Linked DNA regions of Homo sapiens: region 1 is linked to region 2. Evidence: fine-mapped expression QTL. A gene starts in region 2. The other region holds a variant in brackets. All regions are shown on one strand. Distances are from middle to middle. Region 1 overlaps AOC1 (amine oxidase copper containing 1). Region 2 holds the start of TMEM176A (transmembrane protein 176A).

Region 1 (3,009 bases), 53 kb before region 2:
GTTAGCTGCTCTTCTTGTTAAATACAGGCTATCGACACCAGCCCATTTAAAGTTTTACGCAATGTAGAGTGATTCAGGTGTGACTAGGCTGCAGACTGATGGCTTTGGGGGTGAGGTAGAGGTGCCCAGTCCTGCCTAGCCTTCTTTGTGCCCCATTCACCTCTCTTGTCCACCCAAGGCTACTAGGAGGGGACCTCAGGGAGGGTTTCATCTTAGGAAGATGCCTTTTCCTTTCTCAGGGAGGGTGGGTCAGGGTCTTCACCTCATAACCCCATTCCCCAAGCAGCTGTAAAATCCTGTGCTTGTAGCTGTGAGCCTCCTGCAGGGCTGGGAGACGTGGTGGCCACAGCTCTGTCTTCCCATGTGCTGTGTGCGGAGTCTCTGGGAGACTGTTACTCTTGCCTGTTGCGCTGTTGCTACAGATGCTGGCTGGAGCTGTCTCCCAGCCTTAGTTTCTCCAGACCCTAACTTGTCCTCCTAGGTGATGTGGGCCTCCCTGGAAGGCTGCCGTCACCGTGAAATTTCCCTACAGAAGCACTGCCTTTGCCACCTTGCACCCCCTTCCTCAAGGCTCTGGGTTGAGCTGGGAGCCCCGCTTCAGGATTCCTCCCTGTCTCAGCTGTGCTTTTCACTTCCTGCAAGCAGTGCCTGAGGCACAGACACTTGATTTATAAGGTGGATGCATGAGTGGGTTGGACTCTGAGAGATCCTTGTTTTCATATTTTCATAGGTAGTTGCCTTTTGCTCCCTAAATCAGAAGCCCTGGGGGTAAACCTGGAGAAAACTCGTTCTCCTGTGCAGACAGACAGGTAGCAGAGAGGGTTAATCCACTCCTGTCTCAGACCTCTGCCTGGCCCAGCCTCTTCCCAGGGGGCCCAGGCTGCCTGCAAGGGAGGCCCCGAGGATTTCACCTGGAAAGTCGGCGGCACAGGGTGTGAGGTGTAACTGAGGTGCAGCAGCTCCACTTTGGGTGTATCGTGGAGTGACCCACTGAGGAAACCTGACCATCATGAGCGCTTTTCATTTCTTGCTTTTGTTTTTGGAAAATGCATTTACACATCACATTTCCGAAGCACAAGCGTTGGGAACACAACCCATGTGTTAACTAGAGGCCCTGTTTTCCCGTGGCTTTTTTCCTCCAGAGAAGCTCAGCTGCACATTGTCCCTTCCCACCCGACTCTGGGCCAGTGTCACATCCTTTGCCACCTTTTGAGGTCAGCTGAAACCCCGCACTGCCGAGGAATGCTGTTTTTGGCCCCAACTAACATACTTCTCCACTAGTCCCCTTAGCACTTTGTATTTAATTTGTACACGATGGGCAGTTCTTGATTCATAGACAAATGAAAGGTGTTGGCTGGGCCTGTTCCATCACCCGAGGGCTCTCTAGCC[C/T]TGGAGGCCACGGTAAAGGCTGATCTGAGATGTCCTTCTCTCCCTTTCCCATGCCCCTCTCCCCGAGGGCTCTCCCCTTGCCCTCGTTTTGCTCCATGGTCATGGCCTCTCATGGGGATGTCCCTCTAGTTGCCTTGTCTTGCCCTCTGGTGCTGGCAGAAGACCCTGGAACCCACATGATCTTGGGCTCTCGGAGGCCCTGCTTACCTGGAGGGAGCAGGTGAGGCAGGGGCTGCAGGCGGAACCCAGAGCCAGCAGGAAGGATATGAGGTGAGTTCTTGTGTTCTCCTATTAAATATTGGCCAGGCCTCTTTTTTTTCTTCTTTAAATAGACTATTTTTTCTTTTTCCTGAGACAGTCTTGCTCTGTAGCCCAGGCTGGAGTGCAGTGATGCGATCTTGGCTCACTGCTACCTCTGCCTCCCAGGTTCAAGCAATTCTCCTGCCTCAGCCTCTGGAATAGTTGGGATTACAGGTGTGCACCACCATGCCCGGCTAATTTTTTGTTTTTAGTAGAGATGGTGTTTCACCGTGTTGGTCAGGCTGGTCTTGAATTCCTGACCTCAAGTGGTCCACCTGCCTCAGCCTCCCAAAGTGCTGGGATTACAGGCATGAGCCACCAGGCCTGGCCCCAAATAGACTTCTTATTAGACTTAAATAAATAAATAAATAAATATATATATATATATATATATATATATATATATATAGTCAGGATCTCACTATGTTGCCCAGGCTGGTCTTGAACTCCTGGGCTCAAGTGATCCTCCTGCGTTGGCCTCCCAAAGTGCTGGGATTATAGTAGACTTTTTTTTTAATAGACTTTTAAAAATAGACTTTAATAGATTTCTTAATAGACTTTATAAAGTCTGTTAAAAGTCTTTAAAAAGTCTATTAAAAGTCTTTTAACAAACTTTATAAAGTCTATTAAAGTCTTTTAAATAGGAGTCTTTTAAAGAGGAATTTTAGGTTCATAGCAAAATTGAGCGAAAGGTACTGAGAGTTTCTGTATACTCACAGCCCCTACACACGCAGCCTCCCCACTATCAATATCCACACCAGAGCCATACATTTGTGGCTGATGAACCTGCACATCACTCTCACCCAGAGCCCACAGTTTACATCAGGACTCACTCTTGCTGCTGCATATTCTATGGGTTGGACAAACGGACAATGACATGGATCCACCATTAGAATATCACACAGAATAGTTCCACCTCCCCCAAAATCTTCTGTGCTCCACCTCTTCCTCCGAAACCCTAGCAATCACTGCTCTTTTTATTGTCTCCATAGTTTTGCCTTTTCCAGAACGTCCTGTATTTGGAATCTTACAGTCTGCAGCCTTTTCAGATTGGCTTCTTTTGCTTGGCAGTGTGCATTTAGGGTACCTCCATGTCCTTTCACGGCTGGGTCTCCTTTTTTACAACCTCTTATACCCACGTTTCTTTTTGCTTTTCCAGGAAGGAGAAAGATGTGGAAGAGACCTTTGCTTTCCCCAGGACAAACCTCTGTCCCCATGTGCAGTGGCAGTGGGGGTGGTGGCTGGTGAGACCTCCAGGCAGGAACAGGAAGCAAGCCCTCTCCCTGCTCACCCTCCTCTCTGAGCTTTCCCCACTCCACC
Region 2 (2,735 bases):
CTCTACTCACCACAGCCCCTGTCCAGATGGCAGCTCCCGAGGTGACGAGGAGGGTGTAGTCGCGGATGTAGAAAAATCCTCCTAGGACTGCACTCAAGATCCCCAGCACGATCTGCATCACCTGAAAGACAAAGGACCCAAGATCCCGGCTCCTAGGTGGACCTGCCACTGCAGGGATTAACCGCTAAAACCCCAAAAAGAGAGGGAGAGGTAGAGAGAGAGAGAAAGAAAGAAGAGAAGAGAAGAGAAGAGAAGAGAAAAGGAGAAGAAAGAGGAGGAGAAGGAGAAAGAAGAAGAGGCAGGAGGAGGAGAAAAGAGAAGGGAAAGGAAGGAGAGGAGAGCCGGCCCATCCTGAGTTTGGCCCAGAGGAAAGGATGGACTCAGGGCTCCACTGATTGGGACTCTGCATGGTCAGTGGCTCCTCCACACCCCTTCAGCCCAGAGCCTCCCCTCCCCAGGCTCTTACTGAGAAGGCCAGAGAATCACATCGCTAAGTAAGAAGACATAACTGGCTCGGTGTCCTGTTCAGAGGGAGGCTGGCAGAGAGTGCTGCTGCGGCTGGAGGTGGGGAGTTCCTCCCGCCGCCCGACGAGGCAGGCCGTCACACTCACCCACGAGGCCACCAGCAGCCGGCTGCTGCCCCTGGCCTGGGTGGCCCGGGGCCGCAGCGCAGAGCAGCAGGTGAGCAGGAGCTTGGCCAGGGCAGACTCCTGGTGGATGTGCACATCGATGTGGGTGTGCTGTGGGGCCTCCGGGGCCATCTCATCACTGTCGGCTGTTCCCATTGTCAGGGACACAGTCTATGAGGAAGGGAGCACCAGAGAGGAACGGCTGTCAGAAGATTTTCGCAGATTTCATTGGAGTTGGGGAGGTCAGGGGCCAGTGGTGGCTCAAAGTCACCCAATGAATGGCTGTCCTGGTCACAGGGCCGCACCCCTGGCCCCTCACGAGGGGAATGTGTGTAGCAGAGGGGGTGCTGACCATGCTGGAACTGCGGCGACTACAGAGCCTGCGGGAACCTCCCCTTTCGCCCAAGATCTGCTCTGTCCCCCTCATCCTCCTCCCAGGGCCCTGGCGTCTGGGTCAAGCAGCGCCCCACACCTCGACCCCTCACCCCCTCCTCCCGGGCTCTTCCTGCGGCCTCCCCTCCACAGTCCGCAGGCTCTGGGACAGGACCGAGTCCTTGGCTGCCTGTGGAGCTCCTGTGCCAGCAGCTGCGCCCCGGCTGCGCTCCGGATACCCCCATCCCCGCCACCGCCGACCTCCCGCTCCACCGACTGCTGCTCACGCCCGACGGGTTCACGCCGCCCCTGCCCCGTGAAGGACCGCGCTGCGGTGCGGAGGTAGGTCAAAAGCCGGGGCCGCACCTGGCTTCCTCTGCAGTCCCCTTCCTGGAGTGTCATCCCTGGGTGGGGGTCCCTCCTACGCTCCTCCAACTGTGCGGAGGCAGCTCGGGGTGCGTGCGGAAGGAGGCCCGGGGGCCGCCGGGAGTGGGGTGCCGCCTCACCTGCGCTCCTCGGGACCTGCGAGCGGGCGGCGGGAGGGCTGGGGCGCTGGCTGGAGAAGTGGGTTGAGAGTTGGAGGGGGAGGCGGGGAGGGGAGGCGGGGGTGGGGCTGAACTTCAGCCCCTCGGGTTCATGACAGGCTGCAGGGCCTGGGGTCCGTCTGGGGTTCTCCTGCTGCGCGAGGGTCACTGGGCTCTGGGGAGCTGGGAGGGTCCGCGGGCGGACGGCCCTGGGAAAGCCCGTGGGGTCGTTCTCGCCTCCAGCCCCGCCCGGCCAGGGCCGGCGTGCAAGTGTGCGCGAGTGGGAGCGCAGGGGGCGCGCGGGGGCTCGGTCTTCTCCCGCCCGGTCCGCTCCTCCGGGCGGAACCCCCTTTGCCGGGCCCCCGGGCCGCAGCTGGTTTCGGGAAACCGCGCAGCCTGGGCGGGGCCGCAGCCCCCACCCGTGCATCTGCCGTCTCCGCCCTCCCGTCGCTCCCCTGCTCGGGGTCAGCTAGTGTCCGCTCTGCTCGGCCGCGGGCTCCCGGAGGACTGCAGGTGAGGCAGGGCCTCCGCGGCCCGGGAGACCCTCTTGCCGCAGGACCCTCTGTCACGAGGAGTCCCCAGGGCCATGCCCCCACCCCGTCCTGTCCACAGGACGTCTTTCTTCCTCCAACCTGGTTTCCAGGAGGACTCACGTAGGAGGGAGGGACAGCTGGGTGCAGGTGTTTCTCCCCAGAAAAACGGCTGGAGAGCGGGAGGAGAGGCCTGGGGCTGGCGCGTCCCGTCCACCTTCTGCCGCCTGCACGCCTGGACCCTGGCTGGAGCCCTACGGTGGGGTGGCTCCTGGGACGGGGCCAGGGAGCGGCGGGGCTGCCGGACGCTTTCCCCAGCCCCGGGGCACGGGAAGAGCTGGACAGAGGAAAGTGTTCGGGGCAGCCGGGAAGAGCCCACCACCTACCAGGCGTCGGGCGGCCCGCAGGGGAATCTCCGTGGTGCCGGCCTGGTTCAGATCCGACTCTTCAGGCGGGGGCGAGGCAGATCTAGGGGTTGGCGTGGGGCGGGGGAAGCGGTGGTCCTGGGGGCCCGGAGGTAGCTGGAACCCGAGGTGCCCTCAGGGCGAGGCCTGGGCCGTCAAGGGAAGGTCTGGCTGGAATCTGGGGCTGGGCTGGAAGCAGTCTGAAGCTCCTTTGTACGTGTGCGGAATTGTCTAACTCCTGTCCTTTCTAACCCCAAGGAGGCCAGGTGGGTGAAA

Evidence for each region.
Region 1: its variant is fine-mapped to the expression of TMEM176A in whole blood (TOPMed, PIP 0.95).

What each region holds. Positions count from the first base shown.
Region 1 is chr7:150,852,751-150,855,759 of GRCh38, reverse strand. The region is part of intron 1 of AOC1 (amine oxidase copper containing 1); the gene reads right to left. The region is part of intron 1 of LOC105375567 (a long non-coding RNA gene); the gene reads left to right. Among named protein-coding and RNA genes, the nearest start is that of AOC1, 1.7 kb to the right of the region's middle. The variant C/T (reference allele first, on the strand shown) is at 1,390.
Region 2 is chr7:150,799,601-150,802,335 of GRCh38, reverse strand. It overlaps TMEM176A (transmembrane protein 176A), which reads right to left and starts at 1,567. Exons shown (of 7, transcript NM_018487.3): 1 at 1,508-1,567; 2 at 612-800; 3 at 11-121. The coding sequence starts at 785. TMEM176B (transmembrane protein 176B) reads left to right here and starts at 1,972. Exons shown (of 7, transcript NM_001101312.2): 1 at 1,972-2,038. RefSeq lists enhancers at 876-1,575, 1,576-2,275, 2,276-2,735.